2 separate regions of the Homo sapiens genome follow, and region 2 is linked to region 1. The links come from fine-mapping of genetic effects on gene expression. A gene starts in region 1. The other region holds a variant in brackets. All regions are shown on one strand. Distances are between the middles of the regions. Region 1 holds the start of CUL9 (cullin 9). Region 2 holds the start of MRPS18A (mitochondrial ribosomal protein S18A).

Region 1 (8,329 bases):
TGATGATGGAGCTGAGGAATAGTCGTGTCTAGCTTCTGACCTGGGAAATGGCAAGAGGGCTCTGGGGGCCTGGAATTCCTAGGGACGGAATGGGAGTTATCAGTGGGGACCAGTGCCGAGCTGACACATGTCTGTGTTTGCCAGTGACGCTGCCCGCCACCATCATGACGTCATCCGTGCCCACAACTGTGGGTGGCCACATGATGTACCCTAGCCCGCATGCGGTGATGTATGCCCCCACCTCGGGCCTGGGTGATGGCAGCCTCACCGTGCTGAATGCCTTCTCCCAGGCACCATCCACCATGCAGGTGTCACACAGCCAGGTCCAGGAGCCAGGTGAGTAGAGGAGCAGGGCTAAGGAAAGGAGGACCGTTTCCTTCTTTATACACACACACACACACACATACACACACATATGCACTGATGCCTACAAATATTTCTACCCAAATACAACACAGACTTGGATGCTCACACACACATTTGGACACCCCACTTGGACACTCACACCCGCATGCACCCTCAGACACACTGGCACCCTTTCCCTTGGGCTCTTACATCTGAGACTGCCCCAGTCACTTGTGCATTTGACACCACTCCTCCAATATCTGGAAGTTTCAACAAACAATTTGAGTATCTCCTGTGGTTTTCCAATGTAGGTGGCGTCCCCCAGGTGTTCCTGACAGCATCATCTGGGACAGTGCAGATCCCTGTTTCAGCAGTTCAGCTCCACCAGGTAGGTAGGGATATCTTTCACCCCATCCCAGATAGCCACTTCTTTGTCTTGACCTTAGGGGATCCTGTTACCAGTTCATCAAAGCCAAAATCCCTAGCCTGGAAGCCCATCTGCTTTTCTGCTCAGGCCTGTGGTTGGCAGGCAGGGAAGCCAGGGGAGCCTGAACTGGCTGGCCAGTCCCTGCCCCTCCTCATACATCCCCTTCCCTCCAGATGGCTGTGATAGGGCAGCAGGCCGGGAGCAGCAGCAACCTCACCGAGCTACAGGTGGTGAACCTGGACACCGCCCACAGCACCAAGAGTGAATGATCCGCCCGCCGCCCTGGACAGATGGCCCAAGGGATGGCACCACTTATTTATTGTTGCCTTTTCACGTTTTCTTTACACACACGTTGACGGGCCGCAGGAGGGAGGCGGGGAGGAGGAACGGGCAGCCACAGGACTGAGCCCTCTCACTCCAGCCAAAGAAATGGGCCTGCCTGCCTCCACCCGTCCTCCCTCAGCCTCCCCTTCTTCCCGCCCCACCTCCCATTTCTGTTGCTGGAGGGGCTGTCCTCCTTCCTGGGACCCCCTCGCCAGCTTGGCTCGATGTTTGCCATGAGTATTAGCTTACCCAATGGGACCGTGCCCCACCTCCCCACACACAGGCCTTCTGTGGGGCTGGGCACCGTGTCCTCCTCTGAGGAAGCAGTTGGGGCCCTCTTGCCAGCCTCCTTGCTGACCCCAGGTCAGCCCTGTGTCTGTCACAGGCTGGGTCAAAAGAGCCCTGGCTCTGCCCCTCAGGGGGCCAGCTGGGGAGATGGGGGCTTCTTCCTCACACTGCTGTCCTCTCCCCCTTCAGCTCCTGAGTAGCTGGGCCTGTGCACTGGGCAGGTTCCTGGGGCCGCCTGCCCTGCCTTGCCGCTCCCCTTGGACCTCCAGGGGCTCCTGGGTTGGAGGGAACCACCAGCGTTCCCTTCTCCCCCTTGTCTTCCCCCCTCTCCTCCCAGCTGCTTTACTTAAAGTTGATTTTGAACTTTTTATTTGAGGAGACGAAGTGAAAACAAATCTATAAATATATATTTTTAAAATATTTAACTTTTTTTTATGGCGTTTTTCTCGTCCCCCTCCCTGCCCAAACTCCCCTTCCCTGGGGAGCCCTCAGGCTCCCCAGAACTGGCTGGGCCCCTGGGGACAGAGCCACCCCATGAGCTCGGGGTCCACCAGTGTGTGGGGGAGATTCTGGGTTTGCCCAGTCCTGGGTTGTTTCCAGGAGAAAGCCGGGGGAGGGGCCCTCAGGCCATTCCCCAACGGGGTGGGGAGGGTGACCCACAGCTCTGGGCCTCTTTTTGCCCTTTAGGGCTGTTGCTAGGGAGAGGGAAGAGGGAGACCAAATGTCGGGGTTGGGGTGGGAGGGCGTCAGGCAGAGGCAACTGACTTCATTTGTGCCACACGCATGGGCATTGCAGCCTTGCGCTGTCCCAGGCATGCAGCTGCCTGGGGCCCAAGTTGCAGTGAGCAGGGTGGGGTCTGGGAGGGGGTGAGAGGCAGGAATGGGGGTCAGAAGAAGTGGGAGCAGCTTCTTGGGCTGAGTGCAGCCAAAGGGGAGCCAGAAATGGGCAGTTCTCCCAGGGAGTGAGCAGCTACTGTAACTTTTTTAAATTAAGACAAAAAGCCTTGAAGAAAATGACTTTATTTTTCTAAGTGTAACCTCAGTATTTATGTAATTTGTACAGGGGCCATGCCCCACCCCCCTCCTCCCCCTTTGGGGTAGACCTTGAGGGTGGGCCAGCATAGGGGGGAGGGTCTTTTACCCTGTGTCAGAGCCTACCTTCACCACCTATATCCAGAAGGGGAGCTTTTTCAGAAACAGGGCAGCAGTGGGGTGAAATTTTCTTAACCCCTAAGACTGCCTTCAGTAGGAACAAGCTGGCTTCTGTGATTAGGTGAAGGGATGGGGGAAGATTTTATGCACAGCCTAGTTATCAAGGGGATGATTTGCCGACATGTTTGAGAACCCCCTAACCTCTAACCCTCATTGCTGTCTTGCCCCAGTTTGGGGTGCCAAGATGGAAGTCACCTTTCTGGGCTTTCTCCTGGAGATAGCTGGGGCTTATGGGTGGCTTTCAAGGCTGGGGCATGGCAAATCAGGGGCCAGAGAGCAGGGGAGCTTGGGACTCAGGTCTGTAACTGCCCAGCCCCTTTTCTCTGCTCTTGTTTCACTCCACCATCACTCACTCACTCCCCACTCCCCCACCCATGGGGAGGAGACCTTTGATGAATTCTTCCTCTCCTTCCCACAAAAGACAGACCCAGTGAGTGAATCAGGCAAAGTGCTTATAATGTGTGTTGTGTGAGCGTGGCCTTGGGAGGACATGCGTGTGTCAGGGATGAGTTGAGGTGATATTTTTATGTGCAGCGACCCTTGGTGTTTCCCTTCCTCGGTGGCTCTGGGGTATGTGTGTGTGGGTGTGTGCGCCTGAGTGAGTGTGTGTGCTTGAATGTGAGTGTGTATGTCAGTGGTTTCTACTTCCCCTGGGATGCTGACCCAGGAATAGTGGACATGGTCACAGTCCTATGTACAGAGCTTTCTTTTGTATTAAAAAAAAATACTCTTTCAATAAATGTATCATTTTTGTGCACAGACTGTGGGGTCTTTGGTTCTGTTTTTCTACTTAGGGAGGGATGGGGGTATGAACGCGAGGCAAACTCCTAAAATTGCTGCTCTGAGTAGCGATCCGGGCTGCTTGATGAGAACGGTAATGCTAAGGTGTGCTTTGGGCTGTTTAATTCTATACGATTTAATTTAAGGAAAGTTTTGCGGGGCCGAGGACCTTCTCCCTGTGCGTGGCTTCGCTAGGTGTTAAGGCCAACGCAGAGGAGCAAATTTTAATTAACAGGAAAAGTGACACAACTAATCCAAAGCATTGCTGAAGGGTTTGGGAAACTCATGGGCACCTGACCTACTGAAAAGTCAAAAAGGGCAGCCTTAAGGTGGGAATGTGGGTTACCATGTTTCGTCAGCATGATCGCTGTGATGGGAGAGGGAGGATTAGGAGGGCCGACCCAGTGAAGAGGAGGGGGCTTCACAGTTGACTGGATGGAAACGGCTTCTTCCTGCTGCTGAGAGAGGAGCAACGTGACCTCGATCCCAGGCTCCTCCGGTAGCGCGCCCCCACGCCCCTCTTCCAGTGCAGCCGCCCGCGGTAGCACGCATGCTCCACTCGCGCGCTGTTCCGCCACGCTCGGCGTGGGCCGCGGTGGGACCCGTAGGTGCCCGGCCGTGCGTGCACTCGCCGTGTGACCCGGAAGGGAGCTCTGAGGAGGCGGGGCCAGGACGGCGGGACCGGCCGCTGGGTCCCAGCGAGGGCTGAGCCGGGCGGTGGGAGGTGAGAGGAGAGTTCTGCGCCGACCCAATCCCTCCCCTTCTCCTGTCCCCTCCCCGGTCCTTTAGCCACTGTCCATGGGGCTGACGAAGGGAACCAGGTCTTGCTCTCTGAGATTCACTGGATCTTTTCAGCTTTTTTGGACCGCGCCCCCAACCATCCTTCCCCCTCCCCCCAAACCCGTTCCCTCTGCGGTGCTGGCCTCCTCCACCTCCCCACGGCTCTGCAAGCTTGGGCTTGACCTTGCTATCTGCTGGTCTCATCCATGCGTCCAGAGCTCACCCCCACACCTCAGTTTATTGTTGCTCTTCTAGGCCGACGTTACACCTCCTACCTCCTCCTATCCGATTCTTTTACTTCCCCCTGCTGCTAATCAGTTGCCCGCTGGCACATCGCTGGCTACCATCCAGGCTTGCCCCCCATCCTAAGTGGACCCCTACCTCCATTGAGGTCCACATCCATCTTTCTCCCTCCTCTTCACCTCTACTCTCATCTTCTGTCCCTGTACCCCAACATGACCCCTGCCCTGACCACTATATCTTCATCTGGGTTTACCTTCTTCCATTCTTATTCTCACTATTCCCTGTTGCCCCTGCACTGCTTCATATCACGCATATCTTTCCTGATTATTCCACTCCCATTTATAATCGGTCTTAATAACTTTGCATTTATTTGATGACTCCCCTACCTTCTCCATCTAAGAATAATAACAGATTATGTTTACTGAACACTCTTTATGTGCTAGATGCTGTTCCAAGTGCTTTACATACATGATCCTACTAAATTCATGAAGTAACTATGAATATTACTACCATCTTGCAGAAGAGGAAACAAGCTCAGAGGTTAAGTAACTTGTTCCAAACTATGCAGACAGTGAGACAGAAAGCCAGAATTCAGAGTCACATTTATCTGATACTGAAGTCTCTGAATATTGCTTCTCTCCTGACCTCATTTCCTACCTTTAACCCCATGATTACCACCTCTATCTTATCTACTTAACTTACTTAAATCCTTACCATACATGCAGTATAAGGGCAGGGTGGGACCTGGTCATCTTTCCCATAATTTTATCTGGTCCCTAGGGCCCTCCCCCTTTCACAAGACTCGAATATACTTTTCCTATCCAGTCATTTGCCCCAACATCCCAGCCTTTTGTCATCTCCATTCTCTATATCTGCCATGGCCCACCCTTTACATCCACCTTGCAGCTTTACTCTGTCATTTATGCTCCCTGTCCTGCCCCTCCGCTATCCTACTTTTCCTCACATGTTCTGATCCCACTGCCTCACATGCTGCTGTCCTTCCTGTCCACCCATGTCATTCTTCTAAGTCCTAATCTGTAACCCTCAGCCACCCTGCTATCCTGCCTAAACTGTCTTGCTTAACTGTCACTCTGTTTATTGTTACTTTGCCTATTACTGTTTTAATTCTCTTTTTGTAAACTCCCCTTCCTTCCTTTCTTCCTTCCTTCCTTCCTTCCTTCCTTCCTTCCTCTCTCTCTCTTTCTTTCTTTTTTTCTTTTTTTTGACAGAATCTCACTCTGTTGCCCAGGCTGGAGTACAGTGGCGCGGTCTTGGCTCACTGCAACCTCCGCCTCCTGGGTTCAAGTGATTCTCCTGCCTCAGCCTCCTGAGTAGCTGGGACTACGGGCATGTGCCACCACACCTGGCTAATTTTTGTATTTTTAGTAGAGACGGGGTTTCACTATGTTGACCAGGCTGGACTTGAATTCCTGACCTCGTGATCTGCCCACCTTGGCCTCCTAAAGTGCTGGGATTACAGGCGTGAGCCACTGGGCGCAGCCAACTCTTCCATTTCTTAAACCCCTTCTTCATCCCCTCTCTGTCTTCACTCCATTCTCCTTCTGTTATAAATCCCAAAGTATGTTCAGCTATTTATTCCATCCTATTTTTTGCCTTTTCTGTTTGGCCTCCTAAATTCTACCATGCAGCCTACCGATCACCACCCACCTTCTCTGTGTCTCAAGATTCCACCCCCTCCATGTATTTTTTTTCTTTTCTCATACTGCCTTATCTTTCTCCTTGTGTATCCCAGGAGGTCAGGATGGTGGGGGAACGGCATGCTGGGGACCTCATGGTGCCCTTAGGGCCTCGGCTGCAGGCATATCCTGAAGAACTCATTCGACAGAGGCCTGGGCATGACGGGCATCCTGAATACCTGATCCGATGGAGTGTCCTGAAGTGTGGGGAAGTGGGCAAAGTGGGTGTGGAAGAAGGCAAAGCAGAGCACATCCTCATGTGGCTGTCGGCTCCTGAGGTCTACGCCAACTGCCCTGGGCTGTTAGGTGAGCGGGCACTATCTAAGGGACTTCAGCACGAACCAGCTGGGGTTTCAGGAAGCTTTCCTCGAGATCCAGGAGGCCTGGATGAAGTGGCAATGGGAGAGATGGAGGCTGATGTTCAGGCGCTGGTACGCAGGGCGGCCAGGCAGCTGGCAGAAAGTGGGACCCCAAGCCTCACGGCCGCTGTGCTTCACACCATCCACGTGCTCAGTGCCTACGCCAGCATCGGGCCCCTCACTGGTGTCTTCAGGGAGACAGGAGCCCTGGACCTGCTCATGCACATGTTATGCAATCCTGAGCCTCAGATCCGCCGGAGTGCAGGCAAAATGCTGCAGGCTCTGGCAGCCCACGATGCTGGTAAGAGACAGCCAGGGAAGAAGGAAAGGAATGGAGAAAATGGGGCCACAGGGAATAAGAAAGAGGAGAGATTTCCTAGCTCTGTAAGAACACCTAGTATTTGGTGAATATCAATTTGATGCAAAGGAAAAAATATAGATTAATAGGCTATTTCAGGTATATAAAGAGGCTAAAATGATAGCCTCTGGCTTATCTGTTCATTCTCAGTGCATTGACCAGAGAAGAGAATAGGACTTATCTGTATTTTTGAAACTGGATTGAGATTTATTAGTTGGTTTTGAAATCAATTTGGTGGGTTACAACCAACATTTTTTTAAAAACTTAAGTCATTAGTGTGTAGCACTTAGTAGGGGTAAATTTTGTAGCATAAAATATATGTTTCAGTTATATGTATGTATGTTTGTAACAGGTTACCATGTAAAATGTATTTCTTTCTGTGAGCCTTAGTAACAAAGTTTGAAAGCGTCTGGGGTAGGAGATAGAATCTAGGAAAGGCAGGGAGAAAGTACTGGGGATTGAGGAGAAGATATGGATTGGGTATGGATTACAGGGAGTCGGGCTCACGTCCTTCTATCACTGAGCCAGCAAGATGGCATCGAGCAGCACATGGATTTTGACAGTCGCTATACATTGCTGGAGCTGTTTGCAGAAACCACATCCTCTGAAGAACACTGCATGGCCTTTGAGGGCATTCATCTGCCTCAGGTACACTGCCAGCTGTAGGGAAATGCTGTGTACAAGGGCTAAGACATTATTTATGAAAACGTGGTTCAGGACTGAATGTTAGCACCAGAGCCACCTGGGAACTTGTTAACATGAAGGTTCATGTCCTCCCTCCCAGCCCCTCTCCATTCAGAATTTCTGAGATGAGAACCCAGGAATCTGTGTTTTAAGACACTCCCTATGCCTTTCTTACACAAATCAAAGTTTCAGAACTACAGGCCTGGGGAGAAGGCCTTTATATTTTTCTGTAGAGGAGGATACTTCAGGGAAGGGGAGAGGCTAAAGCCAGGAAGAGATGAACCTGTCCCAAGGATTGTGTCTTACAGATCCCAGGAAAGCTGCTTTTCTCCTTGGTGAAGCGCTACCTTTGTGTCACGTCCCTCCTGGATCAGCTGAATAGCAGTCCAGAGCTGGGAGCTGGAGACCAAAGCTCCCCATGTGCCACAAGAGAGAAAAGCCGGGGACAGCGGGAACTGGAGTTCAGCATGGCTGTGGGCAACCTCATCTCTGAGCTTGTGCGGAGCATGGGCTGGGCCCGGAACCTCAGCGAACAGGGCATGTCACCTCCCCGGCCAACCCGGTCCATCTTTCAGCCCTACATTTCAGGCCCCAGCCTTTTACTCCCCACCATTGTCACCACCCCCAGAAGACAAGGGTGGGTCTTCCGCCAGCGCTCTGAATTCTCCAGCCGTAGTGGCTATGGAGAATATGTGCAGCAGACACTGCAGCCAGGGATGCGAGTGCGGATGCTGGATGATTATGAGGAGATCAGTGCTGGGGACGAGGGCGAGTTCCGGCAGAGCAACAACGGCATTCCCCCTGTGCAGGTGGGCAGCACATGGTGGTGAGA
Region 2 (8,329 bases), 510 kb after region 1:
CTATGTCCCCTGAATTCTTTAAAGACTCCAACTCACTCCTCTCTCAAAGCTTTTATATGGGACTGCCCAACCTGCCAGGCATACCCTTGTCTGAAACGTTAGGTCTTCCAGAAGGCCTTCTTAACTGACTGTGAAAGAGATGAAGCAAATTCCCTTTGGCCTTTACTCACTTCAATATACCTTTCTCTAAGTGTCTGACAAATCATGTCTTAATTTATATAATAATATGTTTGTTTTTTTATTTTAAATACATTTCCTTCACAAGGGCTCTAAGAGGGATAAGGGAGGAATGAGATCCAACACAGTCTTTGCTAAATCTGGCAGTGCCAACCATAATGGCACTAAATGGTCTTTGGCAAGTTAACTGCTAAGAGCTTTCAGGGAAGGAGGGAACAATAAGGGAGGCCCTGCCATGGAATACCAAGGTGATGTTACTGGTGGAGAGGGAAGAGGGCTGGCTCTACTTCCAACTCCATCACTTATTAGACAGGTGATGCTGGGCAAGCTATTAAACCCCTTGGAACGGCATTTCCTCATTTATAAAAATGAGGACAGTTAATATCTACCTTTAAGGTGTTTTTGAGAAGACTGAATAAATGTATGTGGAAAACCTAGCACAGTATTTGAAGCAGGCACAGTAAGTCACAATTTCTATTTTCGTCCTCCTTCAGTCTTGCTTTTCCCATAATAACCTTTTTTTGGCTTTGTGTATCTCTCTGGTCAAACTTTAAACCAGGCTTTCTCAACAGCAGCAGGACTGCCATTTTGGGCCAGATGGTTCTTTGTTGTGGGGAACTGACTTGTGCATTATGTTTAGCAGCGTCCCTCGCCTCTACCCCCCAGATGCCAGTAGTACCAGTTGTGACAACCAAAAATGTCTGCAGACATGGCCAATTGTTACTGGGGGACAAAATTGCCCCCCAGTTGAAAATCACTGTTTTAGACTGAAAGTCTTCATAGACAGGAAAATTGGTGCTCAGTCCTCAAGAGCTGACTAAAATTATGTATTATTATCTGATACTTTGAAAAGTAGGATGCCTGAATATTTTCAGCAAGAGAACCAGCTTCTTTCCCACAACTTTAAATTCTATGTGTACAATATTGTTTGGGTGTCACATATACCAGCTGAGACTAGTCAAAATTAGCTATATGTATAATACTTTATGCCTTACACATAATGCATAGACTAGCAAAAGAAAATGTTTTCATTTACAAGCTTTGAAGATAGGTGATTCTTAAGAATATAGAATATGGTAGTGCCTTCATGTAGAATCATATTAATTCAACCTAACATTTAGATGAAGGACTTCAGAGACCCATTTGATTTACAGTCCATCCTTTTTTACTTTTTTTAAAGAGGTGGGCGTTCTCACTACGTTGCCCAGGTTAGACTCCAATTTCTGGGCTCAAGTGATCCTCCCACCTTGGCCTTCCAAAGTGCTGGGATTAAAGATATGTACCACTGTACCTGGCTTACAGTCCATCATTTCACAAACTCTCCAAAGGAAAAAATTAAGTCTAACTTCAAATATTTGTTGTTAAAACAAAACGATTCCTCTTGCCTTTTTTTCTGGAAGCATAGCAAAATCTGCCTCAACTTTGAATTTCATAAGAATATGCAAATTGTAGCCAATAGTGTTTGACACTTGGTAGACTCCCCAAAATGGTATGGAGATATGCCTATTTTGCAGCATGGGAACAAATGAAACATCCAAGTCCTCTCTATCATCTGCATGATTTCTTTAGTGTCTTTATTAATGGGTCTACTAATGGATAAGTTAATCAGGCAATATCCAGACTTTTTTTTCTAGCAAATGCTCCACTTCCCTTACGGGCTAAATTCTTCAAACATACTTACTATTTCCATCTCTTCATCAACTATCTCTTTCATTTCTCCAAACTGGATTCCTTGTTTGCCACTCTATTGAAATTGCTGTTTGAAAGCTACAAAGAGACCTCTTCTGAGACAAATCCAATGGCCCCTTCATTAGGCCCTTTTTAGACTTTTCTGCTCCCTCTGACAACAATGATCACTCTTTTCCACTGGATACTTCTCAGCTTTCGTTAAAGGATATGCTGCCCAATACTATGCCAGATCCTCAAAAAACCCCACATCTCTTCTTTTGCACATCACTCATCCTTTCCTGCTTCCAGGAGTACACAAAGGAAGGCTATGTCCTAAAAGACCGTTTCACTCTCCGCCAGATTCCATCCTTTTGTGAGCCTGCTCAAGACACATCCTCTTTATGAAAACTTCCAACTGGGTTTGCCGTTTCCAGTAACTGAGTCTCCCTGTACTTCGTCACGTAAAAGGCTAACTTGCATTTATTGGAGTGTGTATATACATAATCTCATTAGAACCTAAGCTTTTCAGAAAAAGGGCTGTATTTTCTGTCTCCAGAATTCCTTCACAGCTTGAAGCATAGCACTTGGCATTCAGTAAACTCTCAGTTGATGCTCGAATCAGGCCGCTTTCCCAGATTAAGATTAATGAAAAGCTGAACTACCATCCTGCATTTGCCTATGTCTCAGCTATTCAATGGCCTTTCCACTTTGGCCTCCCCCTCACAGGGAGACTAGCGGCCCGGGGCAGAGAACGCCGCCATCAGATCACAGCATTTTGAGAAGGGAAAGTGGAAAGGGAGGCTCTGGGAGGGTACCCAGATGGCCTTCCTTCGTGATCCAGAGACTCTTTAATAAAAGAGACTGCGATTCGGAGAACATGGAAGGAAGAATTAACATGCAAACCCTTTCCGAAAACTTTTCTGAGCCCTAGGACAGGTTTAGTGTCTGCTCCTGCTAAGTAAGCAGGCTTTTCTCTCCGTCCTCCTCCGCCTTGTGAAGATACTCACAAGGGGCAGGAGATCAAGATAAGGCACCAGGGTGTGGAAGGGGCTTTTAAGCACGCCTGGGGAGCCGGTACCTCCAAAGTTTCAGAATCGGACGAAGGAAAGGTAGGAAGGAGCGCACCGGGGCTGGCGGAAGCAGTCTCTGCCGCTCTTCTTAATTTCAGGAGGTTGCTGGGACGCATGACTCACCTTCCCTGAACCCGCGAGCTGGAAGCCGAGACCAGCTGGTCGCTGCCGGGCCCGCTAGTAGCCCACGGAGAAGCCGCCCACAGCCGGACACCAGAGCCTTGAGGGCCGCCATCTTCAAAAACCTACCCTGACCTCTCGTCCATTTCCGCTTCCGGAACGTAGCGCCCGCCGCCGCAGTGGTGGGGCAGGAACGGCGGGGCGGGGTTGTAGTTCGCTTGCTCCTGTCACATCATTTCTCTCACCTGTCCGCTTTGGGATACGAAGAGAGGCTTCTGCGTCAAGCCTATATTTCGTGTTAAGGATCTAGGGGAGGTCTTCTAGCTCCTGTCTGCCAATGCCTACAAGTCTTCAAGGTTGCATTCGTTTCCTGGAAGGCTTCCTTAGGAAAATCGCACGCAACACCCCACCTATGTCTTTAAAGCTTTCTCTTCACTGCACGTGAGCTGTGGACTTTTAGCTTCTGTGACTGGGGCTAGACCTCTACGGGAGAGGCTGAAATGGTTAGGAACTCTGGCTCTGGAGTATCGGATATCAGGCAGACCTGGGATAGAATTGATACCCCCTTCTTCCCTGACCACTGCCACACTGATCTTTGATTTGCATATACTTAGACCTCTCTCTAGCCCCAGGGCCTTGATACAAGCTATTTCCTTTGTCTGCTCTTTAGCTGTCTAGTTAGCTTCTGCTTATTTCTTAGAGCTCACCTCAAACCTTATTTCCACAGTTTTGCTTGACTGCCCATTCTCAGCACCAGATGCCTCTCCATCTTAGTGCTTGGGACAATTTCAGTTTTATGTTTGTTTTGTATGTGTCTTCTCACCAGACTGTAAGCTCCATGAAGTCAGGAACATTGTTTTCTGTTGACTCGCACATCTCCAGCACTTAGAATAGTTCCTGACACATAATAAGAGTACAATATATACTTGTTGAATGAATGAGTAGAATCTATTTTATAGGGCCTAGGGGAGGACTAGACCCTGAAGATTAGATGTGATAAAACATAAGTGATCGGCCGGGTGTGGTGGCTCATGCCTGTAATCCCAGCACTTTGGGAGGCTGAGGCGGGTGGATTACCTGAGGTCAGGAGTTCAAGACCAGCCTGACCAACATGGTGAAACCCTATCTACTAAAAATACAAAAATTAGGTGGGTGTGGTGGCGGGCACCTGTAATCCCAGACACTTGGGAGGCTGAGGCAGGAGAATCGCTTGAACCCAGGAGGCGGAGGTTGCAGTGAGCCAAGATCACACCATTGCACTCCAGCCTGGGCGACAAGAGTGAAACTCCGTCTCAAAAACAAAACAAAACAAAACAAAACAAAACAAAAGGGCTCAATAAACATAAGCTAGTTAATAGAGCAGTTATGGAGATGACTCTTTTCACAAGTTGGACTCACTTGTGTTGTAAGGAAGCTTATGGTACCAAAGAGAAAATACAACT[G/GC]CCAGTTTTTCCTCTTTCAGATTTGTGAGACGTATAGGATGTTCCTCTGGAGCTCCACAGGAAAGGAAAATCATTCACAACTCAGTTCTTCCTATCCTTCTCTGATTCAAGATGGGAAAATCAGGCTTATTAAATGACATAGCATGTTTTCTGATGAGTAGGAGAGGAGCCCATCATCCAGTTGGGACCGTCACCCTAATAGGAGGATGCAGAGCAGCTGCTGTATGGAAAATGTGAGTGGCATCACCATAGACAGGGAGAACAGGAGAAATGCAGCATTGGGTTACGTTAAAACATCTCATTTAGCAAAGGTAAACCCGGTGAAGGGGAAACTTAAAAGAAAAGTCAATCAAGGTGGTAGAGACTGACACATGGATTAGGAGTGAAGCAGAGGGTCTTAGTGAGGTGTAGGTCTAGGTGTCCCAGCCAGGATCAAGAAAGCTTTGACTCTCCCTATAGCTTCCAAGTTTGTTCTGCATAGATGACCTTGAGCTTATAGATGTATAGATGACCTTTTGTGTTTGTACTACATCCTCTGTTTCTTCACCCATTTCCAACTTCCAGGAATCCAGTAGAGACAAGGGCAGCAACAGAGCCCCACCCAGGGCTTGCTTTGGACACAGTGAGCTAAAGCATTCGAGTGCCAACCCTCTTCTCATTATCTTATCTTAACTTATCATAAACAAATTTTATTTTAAAAAACAACTATGACAGGTAACATGTGATCATTGTAGAAAAATGAAACAATAAATAAAGTAAAAAGAAAATAAATGTCATCTAAAATCCAGAGATAAGCATTGTTTACATTTAGCAAGATGAAATAATACTGTGGATATTCTTTGCCTTATAATATCTTATTTTTCTGAATCCATTTATGATTAGTCCCTACAATTCTGTGAGACCAGGTTTGGATCAGGAGACTAGCTTTAAAAAACAACACATCTTTTAATTAAAGTATTACCTGTGTAAGAAAAATACACAGGCTGGGTACAATGGCTCACGCCTGTAATCCCAGCACTTTGGGAGGCCGAGGCAGGTGGATCACTTAAGGTCAGGAGTTCGAGACCAGCCTGGCCAACATGGTGAAACCTCATCTCTGCTAAAAATACAAAAATTAGCTGGGCGTGGTAGGCTCCTGTAATCTCAGTTCCTCAGGAGGCTGAGGCAGGAGAATCACCTGAACCCTGCAGGTGGAGGTTGCGGTGAGCCGAGATCACGCCATTGCACTCCAGCCTGGGCAACAGAGTGAGACTGTCTCAAAAAAAAAAACAAAAAACCCAAACAAACAAACAAACAAAAAACAACAAAACACACAAATCATCAGTGTACTGCTTGATGAATTTTCGCAAAGGGACACACTACCCATACTGGAGTGGAGTGGCATGTTCAAGCAGAACTTGACTGGCACTCTAGAACACCCCATTGTGTCCCCTTCCAGACACTACCCCGCAAGGATAATCATTATCCTGACTTTTAGCACAATACATTACTTTTCCCTGCATTTGACCTTTATATAATATTCCACTGTGAATATACTATATTTTAAAAAATCACTTTTTTTTCTGTTGATAGAATTTAGATACTTGCCACTTGGGACTACTACAAAGAGTGCTGTAACGTTCTTCTACGTGACTCTTGGTGAACACAAGAACAAACTTCTTTGGGGCCTATCTCGCGGTAGAACTGTTAGGTTGCAGGGTATGCCTATGCTCAGCTTTAGTAGAAGATATTGCCTTGACAGTTTTTACAAAAGCCTTTTTAAATTAAATTTTTTTTTTTTGAGACAGAGTCTTGCTCTGTCACCCAGGCTGGAGTGCAGTGGCGTGATCATGGCTCACGGTAGACTGGACTTCTTGGGCACGGGTGATTCTCCCACCTCAGCCTCCTGAGTAGCTGGGACTACAGGTACATGACACTATGCCCGGCTAATTTTCTGTATTTTTTGCAGAGGTGGGGTTTTCCCATGTTGCCCAGGCTGGTCTTAAACTCCTGGGCTCAAGCAATCTGCCTGTCTCAGCCTCCCAAACTGCTGAGATTACAGGCACGAGTCACCATGTCTGGCCCAAAGGCCAGGCTAGATACTGTCAAACAATTTTCCATAATGATTGTACCAGTTTACTCTGGTATCAACTGTGTGTGACAGTTCTAATTGCTCCACACCTTGTCAATATTTGATTTTTTTTTTTGGTATTTTTAATCTTGCCATTCTGGTTGGCGTGTAGTAGGATCTCACTGTGTATTTATCTTACATTTCTCTGATGCTTAATGAAGATGAGTAACTTTTCATATGTTCATAGACCATTTATTTATATTTATTTATTTATTTATTTATTTTTGAGACAGAGTCTCACTCTGTCCCACAGGCTGGAGTGCAATGGTGCGATCTTGGCTCACTGCAACCTCCGCCCCCCAGGTTCAAGTGATTCTTCTGCCTCAGCCTCCCGAGTAGCTGGGATTACAGGTGCACCCCACCATGTCCAGCTAATTTTTGTATTTTTAGTACAGACAGAGTCTCACCATGTTGGACAGGCTGGTATGGATCTCCTGACCTCCAATTATTCACCTGCCTCGGCCTTCCAAAGTGTTGAGATTACAGGCGTGAGCCACCACACCTGGCCAATAAATTTCAAGCGTGCAGTTTATATAGCAATATAGGTCATTTAGACATCTCTTTTGTAAAATGTGTGTTTAATATTTTGGCTGATGTTATATTGGGTTGCCTGTGTTTTGCTTTTCTTTTTTCTATTTATTTATTTATTTAAAGACAGGACTTCCCTGTCACGCAGGCTGTAGTGCAGTGGCACATTCGTGGCTTTCTGCAGGCTTGACCTCTCAGGCTCAAGTGATCCTCCAACCTCTCAGCCTCCTGAGGAGCTGGGACTATAGGCATACACTATGATACCCAACTAATTTTTTTTTTTTTTTTGAGATGGAGTCTAGCTCTGTCGCCCAGGCTGGAGTGGAGTGGCATGATCTCGGCTCACCGCAACCTCCGCTTCTTGGGTTCAAGCAATTCTCCTGCCTCAGTCTCCTGAGTAGCTGGGATTACAGGCTCCCACCACCATGCCCAGCTAATTTTTATATTTTTAGTAGAGACGGGGGTTTCACCATATTGGCCTGGCTGGTCTCGAACTCTTGACCTCTGGTGATCTGTCTACCTCGGCCTCCCAAAGTGCTAGGATTATAGGCATGAGCCACCACGCCCAGCCTGATACCCAGCTTGTTTTTAATTTTTTTGTGGAGACAGGGTCTCACTATGTTGCCCAGACTGGTCTCGAAGTCCTCCTCTCAAGCGATCCTCCTGCATCAGCCTCCCAAAGTGCTGGGATTACAGGCATGAGCTACAGCTCCTGGCCTGTCTTTTTCTTATTGATTTGTAGTTCTTTATATATGCTGGATACTTATCCTTTCTTGAATATATGTACTTCAAATGTCATCTCCCTCTCTGTGGGTTGCCTTTTCATTCTCCTGTAGTTTTTTTTTTTATGAGGAGTATTTAAAAAATTTTAATATAGTGCAATTTATCAGTTTTTTTCTTTTATGGTTGATGCTTCTTGTTTCCTTTTCAATTCTTTTTCTGGCTGGGCGTGGTGGCTCATGCCTGTAATCTCAACACTTTGAGAAGTTGAGGCAGGACGATTGCTTGAGCCCAGAAGTTTGAGACCAGCCTGGGCAACAGGTGAAACCCCATCTCTACTGAAAATACACAGAAAAATTAGCCAGGCACGGTGGTGCATGCCTGTAGTCTCAGCTACTCAAAAGGCTGAGGTGGGAGAATCACCTGAGCCCGGGAAGTCAAGGCTGCAGTGAGCCATGATTGTGCCGCTGCACTCCAGCAGCCTGGGCAATGGG

Evidence for each region.
Region 2: its variant is fine-mapped to the expression of CUL9 in left ventricle (GTEx, PIP 0.97).

What each region holds. Positions count from the first base shown.
Region 1 is chr6:43,178,150-43,186,478 of GRCh38, forward strand. It overlaps CUL9 (cullin 9), which reads left to right and starts at 4,047. Exons shown (of 41, transcript NM_015089.4): 1 at 4,047-4,100; 2 at 6,153-6,756; 3 at 7,307-7,461; 4 at 7,806-8,306. The coding sequence starts at 6,162. SRF (serum response factor) reads left to right here. Exons shown (of 7, transcript NM_003131.4): 5 at 145-336; 6 at 657-733; 7 at 946-3,357. The coding sequence ends at 1,041. RefSeq lists enhancers at 1-215, 216-715, 3,718-3,787, 8,231-8,329 and silencers at 4,038-4,177, 4,198-4,247.
Region 2 is chr6:43,684,630-43,692,958 of GRCh38, forward strand. It overlaps MRPS18A (mitochondrial ribosomal protein S18A), which reads right to left and starts at 3,162. Exons shown (of 6, transcript NM_018135.4): 1 at 3,039-3,162. The coding sequence starts at 3,150. LOC124901320 (a long non-coding RNA gene) reads left to right here and starts at 4,333. Exons shown (of 2, transcript XR_007059586.1): 1 at 4,333-4,710; 2 at 5,042-5,264. RefSeq lists enhancers at 2,916-2,975, 2,921-3,532. The variant G/GC (reference allele first, on the strand shown) is at 4,478.